4 linked regions of the Homo sapiens genome follow. The protein of the gene in region 1 purifies or fractionates together with the protein of each later gene. This does not show direct contact. Each region holds a gene or a part of one and is shown on either strand. Other genes may lie near its edges.

Region 1 (7,682 bases):
AAATATCTGGGATCCCGATGTTCTTAATAAATCCTGACTTCCCAAGAAATGCTTCTTTTTTAAGTTGACAAAAGGAATGGGGAACTGGCAGGCCGCGCAGAAGGTTCTTGGTTTTAATGGATAGGCTGAATTGGATTAAGAAAAGTTGAATGCCACCTATGGTAATCTATTTGTGATTTTCTTCTAAATTATGTATTATAAATTCGTAGAGCTATAGAAAGCAATGAGTGTGTAATTTGGAGTGATTTTATATATGGCATAAACTTTGTTTTAACATAATTAGTACTGTTTTCCCCCAAAAGTACAAGTTTTTGAGTAGCAATGTCAGGTTAAGTAAAGAAACTTCATCACATCTTATAGGTAGTGTGTGGCCAATTGACTTAAAAAATACAAATAACATTTAGGAAGCAAATAGATTAAACACAAAAATAAAACTAAAGCATAGGAATTATGTTTTTGAGATACCTTTGGGCTTAGATTGGCATTGTTTTATTCTAAAAACCCAACTCAGTGGTGTAGAGAAACTTGTGTACCAAAATTTTAGTTTCTGCAGATGCTAGTGTTTTTTTGGATACAATTTTGACAACCAAGTTAGTAAACAAAATATCTTAACAGTTTGATGACACAAGCTACTGATGAGGGTTTGGAATATTAATTCAGAAGGTAGTTTCTCTTGTGTTCAAAATAGCTGCCATGGGGCTGTTACTTTTAAAGTCAAAATTTTCTTCTGAAGGCTCATTTTGGTATTTGATCTTAACCAAGTGATTATTAGAGAAATGTATCAACTCCATGCCATCTCCCAAAATAATTGTCTAAGAAAACTTGAAAGTGTAAGGTTTTAACCTTTAATTTATTTCTCTTAAATACATCTTTTGATATTGTTGTTGTGACATTTCTTTTTCTGGTTAGTGGGCTTTCCAGACTTTGTACCACTGCTTCTGTTTATTCATTTATATGCTTTTGTGTCCCATAAATTATTTCAGAAAATGCTGATAAAACTCAGGATATTGACATTTTTGTTGAGACTAAAAAATGGCAGTCGCTAAAGTAGGGACTCTAGAGTCTGGCTTACGTCAGTGTTGGTAGTTTAGATTGTCTTTGTCAACGTTTTTTCTTCTCTCTTTTGCTTTCTTTTCTTTCTCTTTTTTTCTTAGCACAGTTCTAGCTCAAATTTGTGTATTTTTTGTGTGCCTGGGCTGGAGATGAGAGACTGAGTCATAACTGATTTAAAAGTTTGTGTTATCAGGTATCTTATTTGAACATGGTCATTTTTGGCCACATTGCTGTTTCATACTAGGACTTGGGATGATGTAGCCAGAATAAAACTCAAGTTGCACCCTCCGGTTGGTGGAAGATTGCTGACCGTGCCGTTTCTGGGCAGGAGAAGACATCATGGTGTCCAGCAACTCAGCAAAGCCATTCTTAAGAGTCGTGAGGTCCTTCTGAATGTAAAACTGGAGCCCAGGAGAAGCTGTCCCAGGAGGGCTGTTAACTCCCTATAGAGCCAGGAGACAGGATAGGGGTTTCTAGGGTCCAACACCAGCTTACCTTGGAGTATGAATCTACCCATGAAGGATGAGAGATGTTTTGAAAAACTAGCCAGGACACACCCACAGGATCCTACTGGCTCCTTAGCAGCTGATTGGTGTTACATAATTAACTTAATTGGAGATGCATTAGGTCACTTGAATGTATAAGCAAGCACCTATGGTAGGCGCTACAGACATTTAAATCTCTTGGGAATTCGATGCTCCCATGGAATTTATACCAGTTATATGAATTGACTTAAGTATCTTGAAAAAGAAACTTTAGAGAAAGCATCAGGGGTGTGTACTCAGTATTTCAAATCAGAACACAAGATTGGAACTTTTGGAAAAATGGGTTCAAGCTTTCCTATTAGCCATGGAAATGCAAAGTTTAGCAGAAGCAAGCAATTAGGCAGAGAACAAAAATGTTAAGCATGGTGTTGTCTATCTTATTGAAGTGGTTGGAAATGAAAGCTTTTAATTTGATAGATTTATCAGTATAAAATTAGGGAAACCACGTGTGGGGAATGAATCAATTTAGAGCTTCGGGAATTGTGAGGTGACTTTTGTAACTTTTGTTCTGTGTGTGACCTGTGAACCACTAGGATGTGATCTGCCCTTGTGGGCAGGTCCAGCATAGTTAGGAGTTAGGCTTTAGCATAAATTTCTAGCTGCATCTGAGTCTCCTGGGATGGGTGCTCTTTGGCTGGTTTTGGCTGCGGATGGTGAGATCAGAGCAGCTCTTCCTGCTGCTGGCCCCTGCAATCAGTTGTTGGGATGCCAGTGCAGATCACTAAGTAGTAAGATTTTAATCAAACACGACCAGGTCCGAAATGCAGGTCATGAGTGTGAAATTCTCAAATTTACATAAAAAGTAGAAGTATAGACAGTTTAACATTTGGTATTAAAGGAGAGGAAATTGTAGCAGCTTTTCACGTTTCCCAGTCCCCATTAGAGGGCTTGAGACCTTGTACCTGAACAACCCATTTTGCACTCAGTGCTTTCTGATGCCTTAGGAGAATTGTTTTGTTTCACAAAAGCTGGGAAGGAAGAAGTCCATTCTGCAGCTGTTAGATCTGCCTCTCAGGAAAAAGTACTAACTTGTTCTTTTTGTTCCTGGCTTTCATCAGTTTGTGAGATTTCTCTATTTTTTTTAAATATAATTTTATTTCTTTCAACAAATATAAAATAAAAAACAACTTTGGAACAATGACTTGTCTTTCATCGTGGCTTTCTTTATATTAGATACCAAAAAGCAGTCCAGATGTTAAACAGCTGGGAAGCCCAGGCAGGTGCCTTGCTGTCTTTCCTGTTCCCACACTGGACGGCTGGGGGTAGGGGTGGGGAAAGTGGGGAGACAGGCAGAGGTATTTGTGTCCAAGTCTAGATCTCCCCGTTTGCCCTTAGTGGATAGGAAAATAGTTTTCTCTGAACATGGGATACATCTTTAGTTATATTTTTAGTCACTTGGTCTAAACTAAAAATTATACCAGAATAGGGAAAGGAATAACTGAATAAATGGGTTCCCGCTTAATCACCTAGTGTCTCAGAACATGGTTTCCATTTAGAGAGGGAAGAAATTCTTATGTTTCGAGATAGATAGTCAAGAATTTAAAGTAAGGCCTTTCCCCATCTGGAGTTTTGTAGTACATGTGGACACTGTCCTCATTTACGTCATAGAGTGTCTGTAGAGATGAATTTGCTGATTTCATAAACTGTTGAGTCCAGGGAGCTGATGTGAATTGAATATTTCAAGGGAATGCCATTTAAATGCTTTTCTTCTCTGATGCCTCAATTATTTTCATGTCTTGGGAAATAAATCTCTGCTTGCTGCATCTTAATGAAAAGTGGAGGTCAGGAATTATTTCTATGGGAAGTGTGGCCCGTTTCACTTTTTTGAATTAGTTGTGATTTAGAATCCAATAACGTGTCTTGGGGAATTTTACCGAGTGATGACATCTTTGTGAGGGGGGCCGGTCTTTTTCTGACAAAAGCACTTTTAGACCAGCTCATCCACTGCCTGTGCCTAGCCAGAGAGTTCATAAGCGTTTTACAGTTTTACATACATTCAGAGAACACCATTGCCTAGGTATTCTTTTACTGCAGTATCCCACTCCTCACAGAGCTCTAGGCCTGAAAGCTGTATAGAGGCATCTAGAGAAATGGGGGTTATAGAATTGGACTTGGAAAAGGAATAGGATTGTCAGTGAAACAGTCACGCGTTACACTTTTTGCAGCCCAAACGCCACCTCTTGTCCCTCCCTGTAAAGAAGCTGTTAAAACCAGATGCGCTTCCACATCGCCACCTTTCACTTCCACCTTCTAAATGGAGCTCCGGTACCTGTCTGCTTCACCCACCCCGACCCCCATGCAGAGCCATCCTCTTCGCTTGCCTGGACTTGGTGACTGGCTCCTCGTTGGTGTTCCTGGATGGCAGCGTCACTGCCTGCTCTCCAGAACCATCTGTTGCTCCCCATTGCACCCGGGGTGAGACTCAGTCTCCTTGTGTCGTGGCGTTTCCCCTCATCAACTTAATTTCCCTCCATCCTCCTGTGTCACTCTACTTCGGCTCTAGGGCTTTTCCAAGCTCTTTTCTGCCCTTCCTGGGACAGCTCCTTCTGTCTGGAATGAAGCATCTCCTCTGGCTTTTCACTAACAAGTTCCCTCTCTGTCTCAGCCCCCTGGCTGTCTACGCTAAGCCTATCCTGTTGCTTGCTTCATGGCACTTTGCAGTGTTTGAGACAATATATTTGTTCATGCTGGTTTGAGGTGAAGGCCTCGCAGCAGACTAGAGGCTCTGGAAGGAGGGGTCATGTTTGTATCCTGCACTGGCAGAGTAGATGCTCAATTATGTATTGAATGAATACCTAGACACTGAGTTTCAGAAGGGTTGTAGCACACTATACAGCTTTCTGGCGGGGTCTCTAATGGATTTCTGAAGCTACATGAATTTCTGCAGAGGTTAGAAGAGACAGAGTTAGGTACAAACATGGGGGTAGCGGAGGTAGCTACTGGGGCCCTCTAGACCTGTGCTTCCAAAGAATGCCCTTTGAGACAGGTGGAGACTCACGCCTGTAATCCTAGCACTTTGGGAGGCCAAGGCAGGAGGATTGCTTGAGGCCGGGAGTTCCAAGACCAACTTGGCCAACATAGCAAACTCCTGTCTCTATTTATTAAAAAAAAAATTTTTTTTTTAAAGAGCACCCTTTGACCTACTGGCTCAGGAAAAACGTGACCTCTCTGTTCCTAGTGACCCTCTGAAAAGTGTTTAGATAGAAATAAGAGATTTCTCCTTGCTCCTTTTTGTTCACTTCTTGATAATCAGAGATGTTTATGTGGAACGGGCAGCTTTGGTATGGAATGTCTGAAAGGAAGGAGAAAGATGTATGGTGCACTCAGCTCTGTTTCTCAATTAACAGAACTAAACTGTCCATTTTGAGCTTCATCCTGACTTTGAGTGGTTTTATCCTGAAAGTGGTGGAAATTAAAGCCCTGTACACCAGACTGTGTCTGTCACAGGGGAACAGGGGTGGAGAAGTGCTTGGTGAACTCTTCAACTTTCCTTACACTCAGAAGATACTTTTTTTTTTTTTTTTTTTTTTTTTTTAAGAGACAGGGTCTTGCTCTGTTGCCCAGGCTGGAGCGCAGTGGTGCGATCATAGTTCACTGCAGCCTTGAACTGGGCTCAAGCGATTCTCCCACCTTAGCCTCCAGGGTAGGTGGGACTATAGGCGTGTGCCACCACGCCCAGCTAGTTTTTTATTTTTACTTTTTTTAAGAGACGGGATCTCCCTATGTTGGCCCAGGCTGGTCTTGAACTCCCAGCCTCAGACGATCCTTCAGCCTTGGCCTCCCAAGGCATGAGCCACTGCGCCTGGCTAAAAAGACATAATTGCTACTGCTCAATGTCACAGATGGATAGCTTAGGGAATGTATCTGTACCAGCAGAAAACCTTAAAGAATGGATGTTATAAATCTAAGAAGCAGATAAGATAAATGGTGATTTGGAACTGAAATTGGCTTTTATTTTAATGTGACCACTTTATAAGCACTTCTGTGTTATTACCATAGGAAGAAATCAGTTTGTATTAAACTCTTTGGTGACTTTTTTTTTTTTAAAAAGGCAGTCTTGCTTTGTTGCCCAGGGTGGAGTGCAGTAGCATGATCTTGGCTCACCGCAACCTCTGCCTCCTGGGTTCAAGAGATTCTCCTGCCTCAGCCTCCGGAGTAGCTCGGATTACAGGTGTGTGCCACTACGCCCAGCTAATTTTGGCATTTTTAATAGAGATGAAGTTTTGCCATGTTGGCCAGGCAGGTCTCAAACTCCTGACCTCAAGTGATCAAAGTGCTGGAATTACAGGCGTGAGCCACTGTGCTGGCCTTTGGTGACTTCTGAAAACGTCTCTTAAGCTACAGTTTTCCACCCCCTCATCCTCATGGTTTCATCTGTGGCATCCTTCTCACTTGTCATCTTTCACCTTGGCTTGGGAACTCTTGGATGGGAGCTCTGTGAGAAGGCAAACCTGGAATGGTGTACAGAATTCTAGAAACCAGCTCCAGGGGTGGGCTGTTCTGCGGGACCCTGGGAGAACTGGACAAGCAGAGGCAAGGACAGATACTTCACCAGGCATGGCTGGGCCCTGGCTGGCTTCCTGCCTGGTAGAATTTGTTCAAGGACTACACTTAGGGAGGACAAGCGGTCTCTGCAAATTGGCTGTGGCGCTGCCTTCGTTGGCAGTGTCTCCGACAGATGCTGGCTTTGGCTAGTGTGTCCCACATGAAAAAGAAATCAAGGACAAGAGATCCCTGCAAGTCTCAGGTTTTAAATATCTGCAGCTCAAGCGCTACATGATTCTACCACCTTCAGAAATCTAGTTTGGAGGCAGTGACCGTATCAGAAAGACTTGTGTTAAATCAGTCCGCCCTTTAACTTGCGCAAAGGCATGGCGCGGGGTGACTTGGCCAGTCTGACCTGAGTGCCTAGGATCTTCCTGCAGCGTTGCTTGCCCCACCTCAAACCTCGGGCTGCGCTGGTACTGACAAGCTAAAACCACCTTGCCTAGGAGTACTTCTCACACTTGTCTGTCAGGAGCATCTGGCGGGCGCTTGTGAAATACACAATTCCTGGGCCATTGCCCCTAGACGTTGGGTCAGATGGTCTGTGGGGGTCCCAGGAATCTCTTACCAAATGCCCCAGTGGTTCTGATGCCTGTTAGGCTTGGGAAACCTTGCAGCAAGTGACAGGGTGACACCAGAGCCCCGAGTCCCAGGGGCTCAAAGCAGGCTCCTCGGGGAGGACTCTGCCCTTGTCCCGCCAGGCCAGTCTGAGGCAGAAGCAGCCGTTAGAGGGCCTGTGCTGCCAGCACCATCTTCCTGGAACTGACTTGATACTGACACCAGGTGAGCCATCTTTTCAGGGTGCACGGGGTCCCAAATGCTCATCTGCAAAGGAATAAAGGGGAAGCCACGCACAAAGGACCATTTTAGGAAACCTTTTATTGCAAATGCCATTCTGCATATTGATTTTTGACAGAAAGTATCAGAAATGCTTCTTTCCTGGGAAAAGGAATATAAATGACAGCAAGACACATTTTAGTTGCTACTAAAGAACAGCATTATTTTCAATCATTTTAAGTCGCTCATTTAATAAGCAAGGTATAAAACAGATTAAAGGTGGGAGCCTGCAAAAGGGTAATTAAAAAAGTGTTTCCTCCCCGGGAAACAGCACTGTTTGGTCTGATCAAATGCCGAAGCTGGGATCTGATTCTGGGTGCCGTCTCTCGCTACTGGAGTGCTGACCAGCAGGCTGCCCATCACGAAAAGAGGTTGCAAGGCCAGGCCCCCAGGTGCGCTGGGATTTCTGGCTGGCTCTACTTGGGGCCAGAGAAGGGGGTAAAGGCCTTGTCACAGCCTGCCATGCATGCTTCAATCTCTTCCACAGTGCGGGGCACGCAGGTCAGCAGCTCTATGCCGCTGTCAGTCACCACGACGTCCTCCTCGATGCGGACCTGGGTCAAGCCGACAGACACACATTATCATAGAGCAGCCTCATGTGCCAGGCTAGAGGGCCGGGCCCATTCCAGGCCCACCCCACCATGGGATGGGAGCAGCTGACACTCCCTGGGAGACGGGTGGCCTCCGGGCTCCTTCATGGAG
Region 2 (7,943 bases), on another chromosome or scaffold:
CCAGGCATGGTGGTGGCAGCCACCTGTAATCCCAACTACTTGGGAGGCTGAGGCAGGAGAATCACTTGAACCCGGGAGGTGGAGGTTGCAGTGAGCCGAGATCGTGCCACTACACTCTAGCCTGGACGACAGGAGCAAAGCTCCATCTCAAAAAAAAAAAAAAGAAAGAAAAAAAAATTAATGAGATAGGAAATGCTTTATGTATTTACAAGCAACTGTTACTTCTTGCTCTGTGAACACCCTAGTTTTCAAGTGGTACCTGGGTGTGAGCTGTTTTTAATGTAAGGATGTTAGCCCTGCATCTGACACATGTGGATAACATATTTTCCAATGTTATCTGTAGCTGGCCTCCACCCAGTTGGCCAGCCTTTTCTATGTTCCTTCTGCTCATTCAAATATGTTTCAGGCACTGACTGGGCATGGTGGCTCACACCTGTAATCCCAGCACTTTGGGAGGCCCAGGCAGGAGGATTGCTTGAGTTCAGGAGTTTGAGACCAGCCTGGACACCACAGTGAGACCTTGTCTCTACAAAAGATTTTAAAATGGTCCAGACATAGTGGCTCACTCCTGTAATCCCAGCACTTTGGGAAGCCGAGGTGGGCGGATTACCTGAGGTCAGGAGTTTGAGACCATCCTGGCCAACATGGTGAAACCCCGTCTCTGCTAAAAATGCAAAAATTAGCCAGGCGTGGTGGCATTCACCTGTAATCCCAGCTACTGAGAGGCTGAGGCAGGAGAATCGTTTGAACCTGGAAAGCGGAGGCTGCAGTGAGATTGTGCCATTGCACTCCAGCCTGGGTGACAAGAGCAAAACTCCATCTCAAAAAAACAAAAAACGAAACAAAACAAAAAACCCACAAATGTAGCCAGGTCATTGGTGCACACCTGCAGTCCCAGCTACTTGGGAGGCTGAGGTGGGAGGATCACTTGAACTCAGGAGGCCAAGGCTTCAGTGAGCCATGATCATGCTACTGCACTCTAGCCTGGGTGACAGAACAAGACTCTGTCTCAAAAGAAAAAAGTGTATCAGGCACTATTCCAGATGCTGGTGAGATAAGAGTGAACAAAACAATATCCATACTGCGGAATATTATTTGGCCCTAAAAAGAAAGGCAATTCTGACACATGCTTACAGAATGGGTGAATCTTCAGGTCAATATGCTGAGTGAAGTAAGCCAGTCACAAAAATAAATACTGCATGATTCCAGTGATATGAGGTCTGTAGTTAAATTCATAGAGACAGAAAGTAGAAGGGTCATTGTCAAGGTCTGGGAAGGGGAAAATAGGGAGTTATTGTTTAATGGGTACAGAGTTCCAGTTTTATAAGTTGAAAAGAGTCCTGGAGATGGACGGTGGTGATGGCTGTGCACCATTACGAATGTGCTGAATACCACTCACTGTACACTTCCACATGGTTAAGATGGTGAGTTTTATTTTATGCATGTTTTACCACAATAAAGAAATTGGGAGGGAAAACAAAGTAAACCAAACACTAATTTCCCTGCCCTTATGAGGTTTGTATTATACAGTGGGGGAGACAGACACAAAAGTAAGATAAATAAGTAGGACTTCTGTTTCAAGCCATGACAGAATAGCTGGTGCTGAGCTCCTGCCTTTGTCACAAGCTACTAGAAAATAGGATAGAATAGGCCGGGCGCGGTGGCTCACACCTGTAATCCCAGCACCTGGGGAGGCCAAGGCGGGCGGATCATGAGGTCAGGAGATGGAGACTGTCCTGGCTAACACAGTGAAACCCTGTCTCTACTAAAATACAAAAAAAATTAGCCAGGCGTGGTGGCGGGCACCGGTAGTCCCAGCTACTCAGGAGACTGAGGCAGGAGAATGGTGTGAACCCAGGAGGCGGAGCTTGCAGTGAGCTGAGATCGCGCCACTGCACTCCAGCCTGGGCGACAGAGCAAGACTCTATCTCAAAAAAAAAAAAAAGAGGATAAAATATATGAAATAATTGTTTTTATACATCAGACAACAGGCAACACAGATAGTGATTCTTGAGAGACAGGAAACAAATGAGGTGGGTGGTGTGATCATCCCGGCCTTCTGCCTGGAGGAACTTTCAGGACCACAAGGAGGCGGAACCCAAGCAGAGCCTGGTGGCCACACAGAGTTGAGATGGTGATTGTAGTTTGGGGAGGCAAAGGGAGCTGGAATGTATAGATAGGAGTGAGCTATGTAGGGAAAAAGCCTCCAGAAATCCACATGGTATCCTGTGGAATCCTGGACTGAAGATGAAGCTGTGCTAGGCAGAGTGAAAAGCTAAAGGCTGGTCGAAGAACTACTAAGCAGCCCCAAGATGCAGAATGCCCAGAGCTCACCCATAGCAGGTCCATGTTTGTGTTCCCGTCAACCACAGTGGAGAGAACTTAAATACACAGGATATTCACCAGAGATCCTAGGAGGGCCACAGCTTCAAAACAGTGCTAGATTAATCTTACGGAGTAGACTATTTAGATGTACTCTAATAAAGCTTAAAAACAAGCCTCAAAAGGATCAAGCTGTAACTTAATTGCCTGTCAGATAAAGTTCAGTATGTTTTGAAGGAAAACAACATAAATTCCAGACATTCAACAATTGAACACCATAAAGCCCAGGATCTAATAAAAAATTACAAGACGTGAAGAAGGAAGGACTTAAAGGAAAACATGAATCTAATGAAGAGAGAAAAATAATCTACCAAAAAAAAAAAAATAAAGCCAAATGTTCTTTTAGAGTTGAGAAAAATACAGTATCTGAAATAAAAAATTCATGACATGGGCTTAACAGCAGATAGGCTACTACAGATGATAAGATCATGATCTTGAAGATTTAACAACAGAAATTATACAAACAAGCACAGCAAGATGAAAGCCCAAGGGGTGGAGCAGGGTGGAGGCAATGGCCTCAGGGGCCTCGCTAGTGCCAGGGGAACATGCATAACTGGGTTTTCAGAGAGAAACCGGGGTGAGGAGCAAGGGCAGAAGCAGTTTTAGAGAAAATAGTCTCCAGAAGCTTTCCACATTTGATGAAGACCATAGATTCACAGACCCAGTTAACCCTGACACATCACAGAAAATAAACTACACCATGGCACGCTATATTCAAGTTGCAAAAAACAAAACAAAATAAGAAACAATGATTAAAAAGAACATTAAAAAGCAGCCAGAGGAAAAAAGATAAAAATGACTGCTGGCTTCTTATTAGAAATAATGCAAACCAGGGCCGTGTGTGGTGGCTCACACCTGTACTCCCAGCCCTTTGGGAGGCTGAGGCAGGAGGACTGTCTGAGCTCAGGAGTTCGAGACCAGTCTGGGCAACATGGCAAGATCCCGTCCTTTTTTTTTTTTTTTTTTTTTTTTGAGAAAGTCTTGCTCTGTTGCCCAAGTTGGACTACAGTGGCATGATCTTGGCTCACTGCAACCTCTGCCTCCTGGATTCAAGCGATTCTCCTGTCTCAGCCTCCCCAGTAGCTGGGACTACAGGCACGTGCCACCACGCCCAGCTAATTTTTGAATTTTTAGTTGAGACGGGGTTTCGCCATGTTGGTCAGGTTGGTCTCAAACTCCTGACCTGAAGTGATCCACCTTGGGATTACAGGTGTGAGCCACCGTGTCTGGCCCCATCTCTATTTATTTTTAAAAAATATTTTTAAAATAATAAAAATTTTATAAAGGAGAAATAATGCAAACCAGAGGATGAAAGAACAAAGTATTTAATGTACTTAAAAAGGAAAAAAAAATCTCTCAAGCTAGAATTGTGTATCCATAATATTAAATTCCAAAAATGCAGGCAAATTAAATAGATTTTTCAAACAAATCAAAGTGAAGGATTGGTTTACTGCAGAATGCACGACAAAACAATAGAATTCTTCAGGTGGAAGGGAAATACCAAGTGGAAACTCAGATCCACACGAAAGAATAAACAATGCCAGAAAAGGTAAAATAAGTGAGTTTTCTTGTTTTTAAATTTCTTTTTTTTTTTTTTTGAGACGGAGTTTCACTTTTTTGCCCAGGCTGGAGTGCAGTGGCACGATCTTGGCCCACTGCAATCTCCACTTGCCAGGTTCAAGTGATTGTCGTGCCTTAGCCTCCTGAGTAGCTTGGACTACAGCATGTGCCACCATGCCCAGCTAAGTTTTGCATTTTTAGTAGAGACAGGGTTTCACCACGTTGGCCAGGCTGGTCTCAAACTCCTGATCTCAGGTGATCCACCTGCCTTGGCCTCCCAAAGTGCTAGGATTACAGGCATGAGCCACTGCGCCTGGCCATTTTTAAATTTCTTTAAAAGATAAGGTATCATGGGGATCGTAAGATATTTAAATGTAAAATATATAGATGGTGAAAATTAAAAATGTATTTTTAAATTCTAATCGCTAAAACAACCCTCCCTCCAAACAATCAACAAGAAAACACTAATACAGAGGTATAGCAAATAAGCCAATAATAGAGTTAAAATAGACTGCAAAAAAAAAAAAGTCACTCCAAAAAGTAGGTAGGAAAGAGTAAACAAAGAATAGATGAGACAAATAAAAAACAAATACTAAGATGATAGACTTAAACTCAACCATTACACAAAATGTAATTAAATGTAATTATATTAAATGTAAGCAGTCTAAAGACACCACTTAAAAGGCAGAGATTCTCAGACTGGAGAAGAAAGCAAGATCTAGTTACATACTTTTTATGAAAAACACATTTTAATTATAAAGGCATGGGTTAAGAGGAAATGGATGGAGAAAGATTCCATGAGAGCGCTAATCATAAGACAGATGAAGGGGCTGTGTTAATAACAGACAAGATACCCTTCCAGGACAAGGATAAAGAGGATAAGCAAGAAAGAAGAACATTTCATATGATAAATGGATCAATTCATCAAGAATTCCTCAATTCTAAATATGTATGCACCTGATAACAGACTTTCAAAATACAAGAAACAAAAACTGATGGAACTGAAAGGAGAAATGGATCCATTGACAATTATAGTTGGAAGGTTTCAACATTCTCCTCTCAGTAATTGGAACAAATAGGCAGAAAAATCAACAAACATAGTATGTGGGTTATCAGAAACTTGTTAAGACTGGTTTTCTATTTCTGCCTTAGAGATGAATGATGTGCCTCTCAAATGTGATATGAGCATGGAACTGAGTTTGAGAATTCCTGGTTTGCAGCTTTCCTTCCTGGAATGCAATTCTTTACCTGTAAAATGGGGTAATATGACCTTATCCACATGGTTGCTGTGATAATTGGATCAGAATGGAGAGAGGTATGGACACCATAAAGCGCTGTGCAAATTCTGGCTATTTTTTACTATCTTTGGTGGCCTAAGGAACAGGATTCTTCTGTGTTACAGGGTCAGGCACTACCTGGCCCCTAGTGATTGATCACCAGCCTGCCTGCCTCCCTGCTAGCTGTGGTACCCAGGTTGGCCCCTGCCTGTGGTCTCAGCACTCTGTGCCCCATGCTCTGTTCCTAGGCAGGGCATGCAGAAGGAATCGTTACGCTTCAGGAACATTGCTTCAGTATCAGCTCGTTTCCCAAACCTGCTCCCTAATTTTTTGCCAGGTGCCCTTTCCCTATCACCTGGTCCTCTGTCTCTGGACTCCTTATTCCTGTTGTTTGGTTTCTTTGTGTTGTTCCCTGGCTTCTTTGCCAACTCCCTATGCACTAATTCAACCAGCCTACCACCAGCCACACCTTCCTTCAAGGGTGGGCTGCACATAGACCCACCTGGACTCATTGAGGCTCCCCCTGGCCTGGTACATCTTTATCACCTGCCAAATTCTGGCTCTGATCTTCCCAGACATGCTCTGGTATCCCATCATGACACTACTCAAGACCCAGTGCCACTAATAAGGGGCAAGGAACATTTGCAGCAGGCCACCTGTGTTCTAGGGAAACTTGGATGACCTTTTAAAGTGGGGAAAGGAGAAAGCACAGGACATAAGCAGGGTCAGCAGCACGGCTAGAGGAGAGACAAGGAAGAATGATGCCTTACACTCAGCATGAATCCTGGATTAGACTGAATGTATCTGAGGACACTACTACATTCCCAGCATCACAGGGTGACACCTGTGCCGCAGTCTCTGCAGGGCCACGTGCTAGCGGAAAGGCAATAAACCTTAGGAGATTTCTCTAAGGGAATCCTAGCACTGAAGACTTCCACTCGGGGATCATTTCCCAACCCCTTTAGAGGAACTGCAAAAACTTCTTATATTCTGTTTCTCTTCCTGCTGACTCCACAACACTACTCCTGAAACCATACCTGTGACAAGACAAATACAAGGCAAATTCCAAGATGACTAACTGCAGAAACCCATCCAACATTTCCTTCTGTTGTGCTGGAATATATCTGTAGGGAATGCGTCTGCCTCTCTGCTGAGGTTTGCAAACCATTTGGTCAAATGACAATTGTAGGTTCTACCCATACCTAGATCAGGGCTTCTCCAACCTTTGTGTGTACTGCAATCACCCGGAGTCTTGTAAAGCAAAGATTTTGACTCAGTTTTCATCTGGGCTATGGTGGGGCCCAAGATTTTGCATTTCTAACAAGCTATGTCAATGCTGCTGATCTGTGGCTCACGCTGAGGAGCACAGACAACACCCAATACAAGTCTACAAGAGCGCCCACCCCAAATCTCATGATGTGCGGAGTCACTCAGCATGAAGGCTTACAGGAGATTCTTGTATTCATTCATAAGACATTTTAATCAGTGAGACCAGTTTAGTCAAAGTGTCATCAACCCCAGCGTGTATTAAACTTACCCAGAACTCTTGCAGCTCTGTTAGATGGCTGATATTTTCAATCTTTTTGATTCTATTTGATGCAATGTCCAACATCGTGAGTTTGTTCTAAAAGAAGGAAATAAAATGTTTCCTGGATTACCTCTGATCAACAGTGATTTGCATGACCACGCAGGCAGTGTCAAGTGCTGACCTTAGGGCTGCAGGTGCACTGCCCTCTCTGCCCTCACAGGGTAAGGGCATGCTATGGAGGGTGACGAGACCTGCTTGCTTCCTGCAGCCCTCCCTGGGACAGTGTTTCCATCAGAGCCTGCCCAGCTATCTCCCTGAGCTCTCCTGATCGCTGGAATTTGAGACTGTGTCAGACTCCAAGCCCAGTCCTCCCAGATCCCTGTCCATTGAGACAGACCTAGTGAGACTGATGGTCCCAGGAAGAACCGAGTAACCCCCTGACGCTCTGAAGAAAGGCTGACAATTGTAGAAACATTTACTTAGTGCTCATCACGAGGAAATGTACGACCAAGTAATCTTCAAAACAAAGTTCCTCTCTTCATTTAGGGATGAGGAACTTGGGGCTCAGTGGGGCTAAGAATCTGCCCAGGCGCACAGTAGCAGTGGGAGAGGCAGGACTCTCAGACCCCAGGCCTACACTCTTGTCTGGGAAAAGGGTCCCGGGAGCATAAGTGCAGAGAAGGGACCCATGCTGAGGACTGGGTGCTGGGCCTGCTGAGCACCTGCTGCAGGGTGTGTGCCCCCACTGGGAGACAAGAGTGTGTTTTTAGGATCTTCTACTCTGAAAATGCACATCAGTTACTCACTTTCCAATACATGTTAGCTAAGCCTGAGTAATAATTTTGTTTCTCATCAAAAGGAAAACATTTACAAGCTGTCTGAGAACCTCTGACAAAGTTCATTCCCTTCTCTGCCCTCACGCTCTGCTCCCTCCTGAGTCCCTTCCTTGGTTTTCTACTGCATTTTTGGTATTCCAATTCCAAAGCCTTCTAAGTTTTAAGGGAAAGTTAAAAAATTTCTCAAAAGCAAATACTCCTCCCCCCATCTCCCCTGAAATGTACCCAGCCAGTAGCTTTCCCAATTCGAAAGCGCTATGGCTGTGGCCTGGGAGCTCCTCTGGCTGTACCACCCTTGCTGCCTTGGCGCCCAGCACCCCAGCTGGCACCAGCTGCGTGTGTCAAGTCTGACGCCACTCT
Region 3 (7,943 bases), on another chromosome or scaffold:
GGTGTATGAATTATATGTCAACAAAGTATTTATTTTTATTTTATTTTATTTTATTTTATGACACAGGGTCCAGTCTGTCACCCAGGATGGAGTGCAGTAGCATGATCATGGCTCACTGCAGCCTCAATCTCCCAGGCTCAAGCAGTCCTCCCACCTCAACCTCCCGAGTAGCTAGGACTACAGATGCATGCCACCATGCCTGATTAATTTTTGTATTTTTTGTAGAGACAGGGTTTTGCCATGTTGCCCAGGCTGGTCTCGAACTTCTGAGCTCAAGCAATCCACCCACCTCAGCCTCCCAAAGTGCTGGGATTACAGGTGTGAGCCACCGCACCTGGCTTGTTATTTTTTTAAAAAGTTAAGTTGGTCAGCACCATTAGGGCAAAAAAGAACATTTAAATTAAGTTAAAAGTCAGTGGGCCTCTATAAGCATTAGTCATTCCATATATAAAAGCTTTTCAAAATTTATCTTTTTTAGGTCTCTTTTGATTACTTTCTTCATAGATGAGTAATTAGTAGGAAAACTAGGAGAATATACTGTTACAGAATCAAAAAGAGCAGTATATTTCAAGGAGAGAATAGTCATTATTATTAGATAAAACAATGGTTGTCAAAATGTAGTCCCCAACTGGAAGCATCAGCATCACCAGGGAACTTCAGAAATGCAGGCTCTAGAGTTACTGAATTGGACACCCCGAAGGTAGGAAACAGCAATATGTTTTAACAAACCCTGAAATCTAAAAACTATTGAGAGAAATAAAGGAGCCCAGTAGAATGAGGAATCAAAGATGTTAGGATGTTCACTAGATTTGGCAATTAAGAAGTCATGGATGCCCTCCATGAAGGTATATTCAGTGGAACAGTGAGGGCAGTACCATCACCTTTCCAGTTAGGGAATGTTTGGGAAGTGAAGAAATGTAATATGATTCTCCTTTCAAAATGCTTAGCTGAAAAGGAAAGAGAGGCCGGGCATGGTGGCTCACGCCTATAATCCCAGCACTTTGGGAGGCCAAGGCAGGGGGATCATTTGAGGTCAGGAGTTTGAGACCAGCCTGGACAACATGGCAAAACCCCATCTCTACTAAAAATACAAAAATTAGCCAGACAAGGTGGCCCACACCTGTAATCCCAGCTACTTGGGAGGCTGAGGTGGGAGGATCACTTGACCCTGGGAGGCAGAGGTAGCAGTGAGCCAAGATTGCATCACTGTACTCCAGCCTGGGTGACAGAGTGAGACCTTGTCCCAAAACAAAAAAAAAAAGGAAAGAGAAAATTCTAACTTTTTTTTTTGTCAGTTTTTTATGAAACAGAAGTCTTTGCTTGGCTATTTGTGATGATTCTATTGGTTTGCGTTTTATTGTCTAGTTTTACTCATTTTTTTTTCTTTTTTAAGAGATGAGGTCTCGCTCTGTGTCATGCGGGCTAGAGTACAGTCATATAATCATGGCTCACTGCAACCTCAAACTCCTGGGCTCGAGTGATCCTCCCACCTCAGCTTTCTGAGCAGCTGGGACTACAGGCACACACCACCACATCTAGCTAATTTTTTCTATTTTTGGTAGAGATAGGGGTTTCACTATGTTGCCTAGGCTGTTCTTGAATTCCTGGGATCAAGTGATCCTCCCGCCTTGGCTTCTCAAACTGCTGGGATTACAAATGTGAGCCACTGTGCCTGGCCTCAGATGATTTTTTTTTTAATTTGAAGGATAATTTTTAATTAAATTAATTTTAAATTTTAATTTTTTGTAGTGACAGGGTCTCGCTATGTTGCTCAGGCTGGTCTCAAACTACTGGCTAGAAGCCATCCTCTTGCTTTAGTCTCCCAAAGTTACACGTGTGAACTACTGCCCCGGCCCCCCTTTTTTTTTTTTTTTTTTTTTGAGACGAAGTCTCACTCTGTTGCCCAGGCTGAAGTGCAGTGGAACAATCTCGGCTCACTGCAACCTCTGCCGCCCAGGTTCAAGCAATTCTCCTGCCTCAGCCTCCCGAGTGGCTGGGATTACAGGTGCCTGCCACCACACCCGGCTAATTTTTGTATTTTTAGTAGAGACAGGGTTTCACCATCTTGGCCAGGCTAGTCTTGAACTCCTGACCTCATGATCCACCTGCCTCAGCCTCCCAAAGTGCTGAGATTACAGGCGTGAGCCACCACACACGGACCCTCATTTCTTTTTTATTGTGTAACTGTTTAACTTCATTTTGGTTCCCCCTAACCCTTCATAGAAACAGGAATTGAATGTGAAAGGAAGATAGTTATAAAAGTATTCCCTGCACCAATCCAGGAAGCTTATTTTCTTCTTTTGCCTGAATATCTCTATGTAGTATCTCCCATGATCCACATTTTCTATGTCACCCCAAATAACGTTCTTACTCCTGATACAAGACATTAAGAGTTCTACATCAGATATATTCACCATAGGAAACTTGTTCCACAGATCGAATTAATCCTTCAGAAGAAGAGTAGGATTATCCTCAAAGACAATTCCGGGGAATTATTAGCATAACACTATTACCTTTTCCCCAGAAAAGTTCACAACTTCCAAGAGGAGAGCTGCGAACTAAATGCCACACCTGAGCGCTGACAGACACCACAACCTAACGGGAGTCAGTCTTTCAAAGAAGTTCACACCAAGAACAGAAACTAAAATAAAAGGTTTGTTTGACCCAGAATGAGTCTTTCAAACACAGTTCTCTTATTCTGATTCTAGAAAAAAAGCAACGTAATTTTTTAAGAAAGTAAAACTTAAATAAATAAAGGTAACATAAGCAAACAAAATTATCTTAGGAGACATTATTGGAATTTTAAAATTAACTGGATTTTTTTTTACTCACTGAGTCTAAGATAAACCCAGCTAAACTGATTCATTTCCTTTTAAGGAAAGACTTTACAAGAATCTCTCATGTCAGATCTTTACAACCCCCTTTCTTATTATGAGTACTGAAGAGCTGACTATGGCTGGAATTATGTCAAATAGGGTTCTCAGGACAGAGTCAAATGGTTAAACCTCTCTGATTGATATAATACATAGCCCATTATCTCTTCTGTTAATCTGGACCTGATTAAAACACCAGGACCTCACCTATTCCAAACTTTTGAATAACTTCCTACTGTCCTCAGATAATGACCCAAACCCCTTAACATGATATACAGGCCCTCTGTCAACGAGACTGTGATTCTTTCCAAACCTCATCTTTTGGCCACTCAGGCCTCCATTTCCCATTCTGGGGTCTAGCCACAGTTACTGCTTCCAGTTTCCCATATACTTCTTGCCTCTGTACCATTGCACCTTTGTCTAGGATGCCTCCCAGTACCTCTCCTTTTCTCACTACATCTTTAAGCTCTGGCATAATCTCTATTAGGAAGAATAACTTCCCACCTCGCCCCACTGCTTCATATTAGATTATGTGTCTGCCTTCTGTATTTCTAGATTAAATACTCATCATATAATCCATCCTATAATCTATTTCTGGATATGATTTTCCCTTGAGGGTTCCTTAAGGGCTGGGAATAAATCTCATCTTTGTATTTCTGGTACTTAGCTCAGTGCCTGGCACGTGCAAATGTTTGTTAAATATTTAAGCCAAGCATGGTGGCACGCACCTGTAGTCCCAACTACTGGAGAGACTGAGGTGGGAGGATCACTAGAGCCCAGGAGCTCAAGGCCAACCTGGGTTATATGGTGAGACCTCATCTCTAAAAAAATTTTAAATTAAGATACATATATGTATATATTATTGAATTGCATTTACCTTTATTTCCTCTATGTCTGCTTTCTGGAGCTTTTCTCTGAAGTGTTTATCTGTTTCCAGCACATCAATCACTTGCTTGAGATATTCATCATAATAAAGTCCAGTATCCTTCAAATTAAGAAACCAACAGTAATGCTTCTGCAGGTTTTTCCTTGTTTGAATCTAAAGAGGTCAATCCTGTGAAACAATTTCTAGCAAAATGGCATTAAGACATATTTACTTTGATAGTTTCAACAAAGTGAAAAGCTATATTTCTGAAATAAATAGTTTTATATCAGAACCAATATCATCTTTTATTGTTACTTAAAGGTAGATTTTTCTTTTTTACGACACTCTCTAGTCCAGTAGATTTTCTATATAGTTCAGACAATGAAGATTTTACCACTTTGGTTTCTCCCCATTGTTATCTGCCTCTGCTTTGAATATAATACAGTGTTTTCTTGGCTAGTCAGGTCTGTGTTGGAAATGTATTACGATTAATTCTTCTATCTAATATACTAACTATATTAAATAAATATTGTGTAATGGTAAACAGCATATGCTTGGCCAATACTCTTTTCACTGCTATTTCAGAAATAGTTCCCAAGTGTACAATTTTATAAGTAATAAATATTAGCAATATTTTTGTTATAATTCCTCTCATTTCATTTAGTTATAGTTTCACCTCATTCCACCTCATTTAGTTACAATTATAATTCATTTCATTTAGTTATAATTCCTCCCATTTCACTTCATTTCACTTACTGGTGGTTCTATCTTCGCACTTTCCACAGGGTGAATATTTTGTACTTTTGTCTTGTCTATGTCAATAGGCACAGCTTCAAGAGCAGTAAGTAAACATGTAATCAAGAGAAAGCAATACTGTAGCAGGATGGTCCTCCACCTCATCTGAAATAAAGGAGTAATTATGGTAAAGTCATGAATAATGTTTTAACTCTATATACATGCATTCCGAATGTCACATTAATCATATATTTAATCTCAAGAGGTTTAATAAAACAAAAAAAAAATTATAGGAAAGGAAAGAATAGATTAAAACTTGTCAAAAATAATGCTTAAAATAGATCACTAAAGAAAATCAAGGGAGAAATGTTTTTGTAGCCAAAATTAAAAAGACAGAATACAATATTTTAAACTGTTTTTGTTTGTTTGTTTGTTTGTTTGAGACAGAGTTTCACTCTTGTTGCCCAGGCTGGAGTGCAATGGTACGATCACTGCTCACCCCAACCTCTGCCTCCTGGGTTCAAGCGATTCTCCTGCCTCAGCCTCCCAAGCAGCTCGGATTACAGGCATGTGCCATCACACCTGGCTAATTTTGTATTTTTAGTAGAGACGGGGGTTTCTCTCTTTTGGTCAGGCTGGTCTCGAACTCCTGACCTCAGGTGATCCGCCCGCCTTGGCCTCCCAAAGTGCAAAGATTACAGGCGTGAGCCACTGTGCCCGGCCTATATTGTTTTTATAGTATAAGAAAACATTTGGCTAATTACAAAAGCTTCAATCTAGCCATGGCTTTTTTTTTTTTTTTTTTTTTTTAAGGCAACACGTTTTACCCACAGAACACCATTTGGAAAAGAACACATAACCCCATTTTCACCACAACCCTAGGTGGTACATACACAGGAGAGTGACACATTTTACAAATGAAGAAATTAATAATTAAACCAATTCCCTTACAGAGCATTGTCTTGCCATTAACAAACCACTAAAACTTACATTTTACTATCTTTATGCCAATTTTTTAGCATCTTTATTGAGATATACTTCACGTCATAAAATTCACCCATTTAAGTACAGCATATGTCTAATCTATAAAGATGCTACCCAAAGTTTAGTTCTCAATCTTACAAAATCTTACAAGATCATCTGAAAGCAGATCAGAAATGCAAATTCTCAGGCTGTACCCAAGACCTCTGGGGTGGGGGCCAGGAACCTGTTTTAACAAACAGGGGGTTCCAGGGGGTTCCTATGTATACTAAAACCTGAGATCCACTCATCTCTAGGATACTAGAATCTCTAATAGGGTAGTATACTTCACAGAATGTCTTCTCACTATGAATCACCTCCTCTTCCCCACAATTACTTTTAATAACAAAAAAGGTTTATTATTCATTCATGCTTCTTGTCCACACATACATAGGTGTGCATTTTGGGTTTTTTGAGATATAACTCATAAGGCATAAAATGTTTTAAATTATACTATTCAGTGTTTTCTAGAATATTCACAAGGCTGTGCAACCATCTCTACTATCTAATTTTAAAACATTTTCATCATCTCAAAAAGAAACCCCATACCCATTATCAGTCACTCACTGTTACCCTTTTTTCCCATCCCCTGGCAACCACTAATCTACTTTCTATCTGTATAGATTTGCCTATTCTGGGCATTTCATATAAATGGAATTATACAATATGTAGCCTTTTGTGTCTGCCTTTTATCACTTAGCAGTATGTTTCCAGGTCCAACAACATTGTAACAAGTATCAGGACTTTATTTCTTTTTTATAGCTGAATAGATAGTCCATTGTATACATATGCCATATTTGTTTATCCATTCATGAACTGATGGACATTTGGATTGTTTCTTTCAGGCAGTTTTGAATAATACTTCAGTAAACATTTGTGTTTAAGTTACTTTGTTAACAGGTTTTCAATTCTTTTGGTTATATAACTAGGAGTAGAATTGCTGAGTCAGTTTGGTAACTCTAAGTTTAACTTTTTGAGGAACTGCCAAACTGTTTTCTAAAGCAGCTATATCATTTTACATTCTCACCACCTATAAATGAGGGTTCTAATTTTTCCATATCTTCCACGTGTTTTTGTCACTTCTGCTGCTCTCTTCCTCTCCTGCCAAGACTACCATAAATAAGAAGGAAAGTCAAGAGAATGTGTTTGTATACATGAGTGTGTGTGTGTATGTCCTAACAACACCTGACAACATCTTTTTTTTTTTTTTTTTTTGAGACAGAGTCTTGCTCTATCGCCCAGGCTAGAGTGCAATGGCCCGATCTCGGCTCACTGCAACCTCTGCCTCCCGGGTTCAAGCGATTCTCCTGCCTCAGCCTCCCGAGTAGCTGGGACTACAGGTACCCACCACCACGCCCAGCTAATTTTTGTATTTTTGGTAGAGCTGGGGTTTCACCATGTTGGCCAGGCTGGTCTCGAACTCCTGACCTCAGATGATCCACCCAGCTCAGCCTCCCAAAGTGCTGAAATTACAGGCATGAGCCACTGCACCTAGCCGCTGACAACATCTTGAAGTGACAAAGTCACAAAAAGTTTCTGAGAAACTGCTTTAAAACACTAACTGAATTTATGGTTCCTAAAGATTTAATTGATCCCCATGCTTATTATAAATAACAACAGAAACCATCTATTGAATGTTTACTATGTACCAAGCAGTATGCTAAACTTTTAAAATATATTAACGCATCAACTCTTACAATGACTCTGTGAAGTCAATATTATTATCCCCATTTCAAAGTACAAGAAACTGAGACATATCACTTCTAGTTCACACAGCAGTCAGTCATACAGCTAGAGTGTAGACCTGGGAGTGACTGACTCCAAAGCCTTTGTTGGCTTTTCAGGAGTGGTTCTCAAAAGTATGGTCCCTGGGCCAGCAGCACTGGCATCACCTGGGAATTTGTTAGAAATGCGAATTCTCAAGGCCTACTCCATATTTTCTAAATCAGAGACTCTGGGTGTAGGGGGCCTCACAATCTGTTTTAATAAGCCCTATAGGTGATTCTGATACATGCCAACATTTGAAAACCACTGCCCTAGAACATACTGCCTCCCTTTGCTCTATTATTTACCAACCTCACCTACAATGAGACAGAAAGAGAATGCTCATCTCAAAGGTAAACTTGGATCTTTAAAAAATAGAAAGTGGGAAAAAAGGAGAAATAGAAAGTGGGTTTTACACCAAGCAGTAAGGCAGAACTAAATTTAGATCTATATTCTAGTTACAGCTGCACCACTTACTTGCTATATGATCACAGGTTAGCCAATTAACTTTTCCCACTTCAGTTCCCTCATTTATAAAAATAAAAAAAATTTTAAATAAGAGAATTTAACTTGAACTTAGTATTACTTAAGTACTTAAATTCTATTATCTATTTATTCTTTTTAGTACAGATCTTTCCTGTTACGTAATCAGAAATACTAAACAGAAATAAAATTAAAAAAAAAGA
Region 4 (6,604 bases), on another chromosome or scaffold:
CCAGCTACTTGAGAGGCTGAGGCAGGAGAATCGCTTGAACCCAGGAGGCAGAGGTTGCAGTGAGCCCAGATCATGCCATTGCACTCCAGCCTGGGCGACAGAGCAAGACTCTGTCTCAAAAAAAAAAAAAAAAAAAAAAAGCCAGATGCGGTAGCTCACGCCTATAATCCCAGCACTTTGCGGGGCCGAGTCGGGAGGATCACCTGAGGTCAGGAGTTGTGGGCAAAGGATTACCCAGGTGCCAAGGCAAGAGACTGAAGGCACAAACTGTTGCAGTATAATAAAGAAAATAGTTAGAATAAAGAGTAGTTACAATACAAATTAGATATAGAGATGATCATGGACAATTATCAATCATCAGTATAAACATTATAAATCATTAGCTTTTAATATTACTCTTTGTGGCATTACTAATATAACCTAGGAATAACCGGCAGGTATAGGGTCAGGTGCTGAAGGGACATTGTGAGAAGTGACCTAGAAGGCAAGAAGTGAGCCCTCTGTCACGCCCGCATAAGGGCCATTTGAGGGCTCCCTGGTCAAGCGGTAACACCAGTGCCTGGGAAGGCACCTGTTGCTTAGCGGACCGCGAAAGGGAGTCTCCCTTTCCGTGGAGGAGTCAGGGAACACTCTGCTCCACCAGCTTCTTGTGGGAGGCTGGATATTATCTAGGCCTGCCTGCAGTCATCCAGAGGCCTAAACCCCTCCCTTTGGTGCTGTGCTTCAGTGGTCACGCTCCTTGTCCACTTTCATGTTCCTCCTGTACTCCTGGTTCCTCTTTGAAGTTCTTAGTAGATAGCGGTAGAAGAAATAGTGAAAATCTTAGTCTTTGATCTTTCTTATAAGTGCATAGAAGAAAATGCTGACGTATGCTGCCTTCCCTCTCTGCTTTGGCTACCTAAAAGGGAAGGGACCCCTATCCCATGATCACGTGATTTGCTTGACCTTATCAATCACTTGGACAACTCACCCCTCCTTACCCTGCCCCTTGTCTTGTATTCAATAAATACCAGTGCGCCTAGCCATTAGGGGCCACTATCGGTCTCCGCGTCTTGGTGGCAGTGGTCCCCAGGCCTAGCTGTTTTCTCTTTATCTCTTTGTCTTGTGTCTTTATTTCTTACAATCTCTCGTCTCCGCACACAGGGAGAACACCCGCTAAGCCCAGTAGGTCTGGACCCTACAAGGAGTTCGAGACCAGCTTGACCAACATGGTGAAACCCCATCTCAACTAAAAATACAAAATTTAGCCGGGCGTGGTGGCGCACACCTGTAATCCCAGCTACTCAGGAGGCTGAGGCAGGAGAATCGCTTGAACTGGGGGAGGGGGGGTGCCAAGGTTGCAGTGAGCCGAGATCCTGCCACTGCACTCCAGCGTGGGCAACAGAGCAAGACTCCATCTCAAAAAAAAAAAAAAAAGGATCACTCAGGCATGTTCCTGGAGGATGACTTGAGTATTGCAAAAGTTCAGGGAGAGATAATGAACTAAAGCAGTGGCTGTTGTGTTTGAAAGAAGAGGGTGGCATCTAAAGATGCAGTTTGATGTCAACTTGGAAAATTCATATGAATGTGGGGATTGAAGGAAAAGGGAGGCATTGAGAGTGAGTCTAAGGCTTCTGGCTAATGATGATGATGATATCAGAGAGATGATGGTGACATGAAAAGGAGCAGATTCAGAGGAAGGTGAGTTCGGTTTGGAACATGTTTGAGGCATCTGAGGTCAGCTGGACACATGCTCCCGCAGCTGAGCAGAATGTTCTGGACTGGGGATACGGATTGAAGAATTGTGGAATCTGCAGGCATGGATGACATGTCTTAGAAAGAGCAAGGAAGGAACCAAGGGCTGAGCCCTGGGATAGAGCAGCATTTAAGAGGCCTGGGGAGGAAGACTCGGAAGGGTGGCCAGGGAAGTACAGGGAGCCAAGACAGCAGGGTCACAAAAGCCAAGGGGAGTTGAGTTTCAAGAAGGAAGGAGTGAAGAAGTATATGTCATGGAGAGGTGAAGCAAAACAAGGACTGTTGTCCAGAAGAAATGTCCACTGTATTTGGTAACTAATGCCATTTGGAAAAGCAGTTTTGAGCAGAACAAGAGGCAGATCAAGGTGGGCTAAGGAATGAATAGGGGGTGAGGAAGTGGGGATGGGAAGCTTGGGATGGTTTCTGGATATCTGACTTTAAGAAAACAAGTAAGATAGAGAAACACACAGTTAGAGAAACACACAGTAAAGGGAGGGACTCTTATGGGAAGGACCTTACAAGGAGATGAGACCACTGAGACAGGCATTAATAAAGAAGATGCACCGAGGCGGGCGGATCACTTGAGGCCAGGAGTTTGAGACAAGCCTGGCCAACATGGTGAAAACCCATCTCCATTAAAAATGCAAAAATTAGCCGGGCATGGTGGTGTGCACATGTAGTCCCAGATACTCAGGAGGCTGAAGCAGGAGAATTGCTTGAACCTGAGAGGCGGAGGTTGCTGTGAGCCGAGATTGTGCCGCTGCACTCCAGCCTGGGCAACAGAGCGAGACTCTGTTTTAAAAAAAAAAAAAAGATGCAAACTCCTCAAGTCTCCATCAGTTTATCAGTTTTAGATATGTTATATATTTGTATATTGAGATTCTATATCAGTATCTCAAGAATGAAATATCTAGAAGGGATTCACTTTAGCCCAGAGAAAGGAGATTTATCACTGGTCAGAAGGGAGAAGGAAAGGATAAGTGCAGACACAGATAGGTAATTGTGTAGGTGCATGTGGGCAGGGGGCAAGATAAAAGAATTTCAGGCTCAAGTGCCTTAGATGACAAAGTTGTTGCCTGACAGAGGAGGGTGGAAAGGGTGTAGACCCTTGCTCTGGGAGATAGGAGAGGAAAGTGAGAAGCACCGAAAGTCCGGGCAGGTTTGTAGGCTCTTCAGTTTTACTTGCCCCAGTTTTTTGGGTGTGCAGTTTTCTCCATCTGAGAAGCTTTGAGATATGAGCAGAGAAGAGAGGTGGAGTATGCTTTAAAATGGGGGTTGGAAGGGTGATTGTAGTGGATGATCCTGGGACAGGAATATTGATCTGTTGGCTGTGGAGAGATGGTGAAACACTGGAGTGGGAAGGAATTGATGCCAGGACTGAGACTGCTCTGGGTCAAAAATGAAAGAACAAGATAGTGCTTTTGGTAAAAATTACAAACAGTATAGATATCCACCAGTCGTAGACTGGTTGAATGAACTGTAGGATAAATATGTGAAAAATTATATTTTAATGAGGTCAATTGATATATATTGACATACAAAGATCTCCAGGATATATTGTCAAGTAGGAAAAAAATCAAGCCTTATGTAAATCTATAGAAAAACATCTGGAAGGATATATTCTATCAAGTTCCATTTCATCCAAAGAAGGCAGTGAGATTGGGAAGGGATAAAGAATATTTACAACAACATAGAGTTATCATTGAATTTATTTTATTTTAAAGTTATCTATGTACACCAAGTAAATACACACAGGGGGTTGCGCAGTTTGGTTTGTCTTCCACGCTGGCATGCAACATTTTGGCAGATGTGAGTGGGCAGGCCAGGTGCCCCTTGCAGTGACCCTGGCTCTGAAAGGGATGCGGTGAAGGTGGGGAGCAGGAGGAGGAGGAGGATGTAGTGTGAAGCTTCTGGTGAAGGGTTTGCGTGTGTGTTGTTTCTTTTTTATGTAAGTGAATTATATTTCCCTTACATCTTGCTAAAGAGAAGGCTGCTCCCTCTGTGTCATCTCTCTCCTCATCTGCGCTACACCCTCACATTTCCTTATGTGTTTTTAAAAGAACCATGTGGTGGCAACATTACATAAAACCCCCTGGATTCTTAAGTGCCCTGCTGACAGCAAATATTAGCCTAAGTCCACAGGCCCACAGGAACCTTCCTTCCACCCTAGTGGGTCTGGAGACAGCATGGCTTGTCTACCCCACCGTTGCCCTCTTTTCCATGAGTTGCAGCTTTAGTGCAGAGGAGCCAGATTGGACCCCCTTCCTCAGAACAATGGTTTTCAAACTACTCCACAGAATCCTCAGGGTCTCTTAGGACTGTTCAAGGGCTCATTTGCTGAGGAGCCTTTGAACAGTCAGTCCTAAGAGACGCTGAGACTTCTTCCACCAAAAAAAAAAAAAAAAAAAAATGCAAACTGCCCAGGTCTGCATTACTTTATTTTTTATATTGGGGTTCTATGTAAGATTTGTTTTTGAAAAACATTTAAAAATCACTGCTTTGGATTTATTCCACACTCCACTGGTATTTTTCCCCCTGCAGTTCTCCCTAACTGCTAAAAGGAGCTCAGCAGGTAAAGGGAGCAGGGCCTCTTTTCCTTGAAGGAGTCATGGGCCAGTGCAGCCTGCGCTTACCAGCTGGCATTCCCACTCAGCTTCCTTTCCTGACTTAGAAGTTGGGTGATAGGCTGCCCTGCCGCTGGAGAATCTTGGTCTTCCTCCTAGAAAAGACTGGATATCAGGACACCAGACTTTCTCTCCTGGTTTGGAATGGCTAGTGACCTCCATCCCTGCAGTTACCTAGAAAACCACCTTAGCACCATGTGGAAGGAAAGGACCGTCTGAAACTAAAACAACAGTCCTCTTCAGTATGGAGGGTGCTGCATATGGGCTGAGAATGGCTGGGAGAAGACCCCTCAGGGTCAAGCCTTAGAGCTTCCCACCTCTTGAAAATCCACCCTGCCCCTTTCTTTAAAGTGCACTTAATACCAGATGGGGACATTAGAGAAGGAACTCTTTGTGGAGAAAAAAAAAATGTACATTGGGGAAAAGTCAGGCTCCAGCTTGAAAGGAAGGCAACTAGAGAGATTTTGCCAATGAGCTGGAAGCCCCCAAACCAAGGGGTGGAGATGGGAGGAGCATGCCGCCCAGTATGGAACAAGAAAGAAATCCAGCTCATCACTTCAACTTGAGGGCACTGTGACAAAAAAAAAAGGCTCAGAAATTTCCCAGCCTATTCACCCCCAAACCCAAGGAATCAATCATTTTGACTACACCTGCCTGTAACCATCTCCATGGACAGATGAGCAGCCATTGACAGGCTGCTGGGAGCAGTCTGCCTCCTCCATTTTTCAAAATATTTTAAATCAGCTCTGGGTTCTGGTCATGAGCTCTGGGGCAGGGAATATCAAAAGGAGCTTGAAGAAAAAGGGAAATGGTCCCTTGAGCAACCCATTTCTCAGTCCAGGGGAAAACAGGAAGAGGGAGGCAAAAGGCAGACTTTGTAGGGCAGAAGTAACACCTGAATCCTTTGATTAAGGTGAGGGGTGTATGAAGAAAATTATATGTCTCAATTAGCAGCCCTTCCATTTTACCTTCCCCTGTGCTATATGTGAAAGAGGAGGGAGGAAGAGTCTATTTCTCTGTCTCATGATGCTAAGACATTCTTCTGCTTAAGGCTTTGTGTGTGTGCATGCGTGTGTGCATGTTTGTGTGCGTGCGTGCGTGTGTGTATGAAGGGTCACAACCCTCTAGCTCCCATTTTTCCTTTTGTCATCTCTGTGACCTCTACTCAGTGACTAACACCACTCAGTGTGAGACGAGTAGATGAGAAAGAAGAAACATTCACCCTCCTCCCTATTGCCCCAAATAAGGAAGGTAGACTATGCTTTGAAATTGCTAAATACATCAGTAGATACTTGAGAATAAGACAGAAGAGAGACATAGCAGCAGCTTTTGATATATAGATACAGAGTACAAAGAGATACAGAGTAAGTAAGAGAAGACATCAAACATAGTACAGTCCAACAACAGGGGTTGGGGAGGGAGTTAGTATCAGAGACCACAGGTTTGCAGCATGCTGAGAAGAGGCCTCAGTCCCTCTTAGAAACTGGGAAAGAAAGAGAAAGAGGGTGTGAGGGCCCAGCTTGTAGCTCAGTCACAGAACAGGAACAGGTGGCATCTGCACACACTTTGGTTTACTGTCCTGTTCCTTTAATACCAACAAGCAGACCCCCCTACCACCGCCCCCCGTGACCCAGGCTTGCACCTCCACCCCTAGGTCTCCCCAACTCCTCTTCTGCATTCCTACTTCTCTGCTTCTCAGACTTTTCTGCCTGTGTGTGCCTGGTTTACTATTCTGGGAAACCCCTGGAGAGGGCTCAGCTTAGATGCAGCCCAGTAAGAGACTGGCCATGTTCTCTGTGCCACTTCTGGGCCCTAAAGCAACCTTGGTGAGAAACCCAGTGACACACAAGAACAAAGAAGGTTCCTGTGCTGCTAGAGGAGAGCACCTGGGGACAGAGGAGGAAAAAGAGGGGCTTTGCCACCTCCACTGAGCAAGATGGGAGGGGAGCGCTGACTGATTTCGTGGGGCGTTTCCTAAAGCTTACTGGTGGCATATACAGATGGGAAGAGGATGGGACACAGGTGCAGGCGTGAAGCAAACATCGCCTTAACTGGAGATGTCTTAGTTCCAAAAACACCTATCCATCCAAAATTATTTCAGGGTGGAGGAAGAGGTGGGGTTGAGATGGCCCCCTAGGGTCTCCTGATAGATCTGCAGTCTACCACCCCTGTGGTTCTAATCTACAGCGGCCAAGCTCACTTCTTTGGACATGTGACAGTGACCCCTAGTGGCAAAAAGACAGTAC

The links.
Region 2: the proteins of CEBPG (region 1) and PPP1R7 fractionate together in Homo sapiens (co-fractionation; one large-scale study listed by BioGRID). This does not show direct contact.
Region 3: the proteins of CEBPG (region 1) and NUCB2 purify together in Homo sapiens (affinity purification with mass spectrometry; one large-scale study listed by BioGRID and IntAct). This does not show direct contact.
Region 4: the proteins of CEBPG (region 1) and KIF5A purify together in Homo sapiens (affinity purification with mass spectrometry; one large-scale study listed by BioGRID and IntAct). This does not show direct contact.

What each region holds. Positions count from the first base shown.
Region 1 is NC_000019.10:33,379,948-33,387,629, forward strand, and holds the end of CEBPG (CCAAT/enhancer-binding protein gamma), read left to right. Parts: 3' UTR 1-2,739; downstream 2,740-7,682. Other genes in the region: PEPD (xaa-Pro dipeptidase), read right to left, coding at 7,397-7,534. UniProt on the Homo sapiens protein: Transcription factor that binds to the promoter and the enhancer regions of target genes. Binds to the enhancer element PRE-I (positive regulatory element-I) of the IL-4 gene. Binds to the promoter and the enhancer of the immunoglobulin heavy chain.
Region 2 is NC_000002.12:241,168,681-241,176,623, reverse strand, and holds part of PPP1R7 (protein phosphatase 1 regulatory subunit 7), read right to left. Parts: intron 6,844-7,943; coding exon 6,757-6,843; intron 1-6,756. UniProt on the Homo sapiens protein: Regulatory subunit of protein phosphatase 1.
Region 3 is NC_000011.10:17,292,019-17,299,961, reverse strand, and holds part of NUCB2 (nucleobindin-2 isoform 1 preproprotein), read right to left. Parts: intron 4,639-7,943; coding exon 4,495-4,638; intron 3,859-4,494; coding exon 3,751-3,858; intron 1-3,750. UniProt on the Homo sapiens protein: Calcium-binding protein which may have a role in calcium homeostasis. Acts as a non-receptor guanine nucleotide exchange factor which binds to and activates guanine nucleotide-binding protein (G-protein) alpha subunit GNAI3.
Region 4 is NC_000012.12:57,583,455-57,590,058, reverse strand, and holds the end of KIF5A (kinesin heavy chain isoform 5A), read right to left. Parts: intron 5,842-6,604; 3' UTR 3,426-5,841; downstream 1-3,425. UniProt on the Homo sapiens protein: Microtubule-dependent motor required for slow axonal transport of neurofilament proteins (NFH, NFM and NFL). Can induce formation of neurite-like membrane protrusions in non-neuronal cells in a ZFYVE27-dependent manner.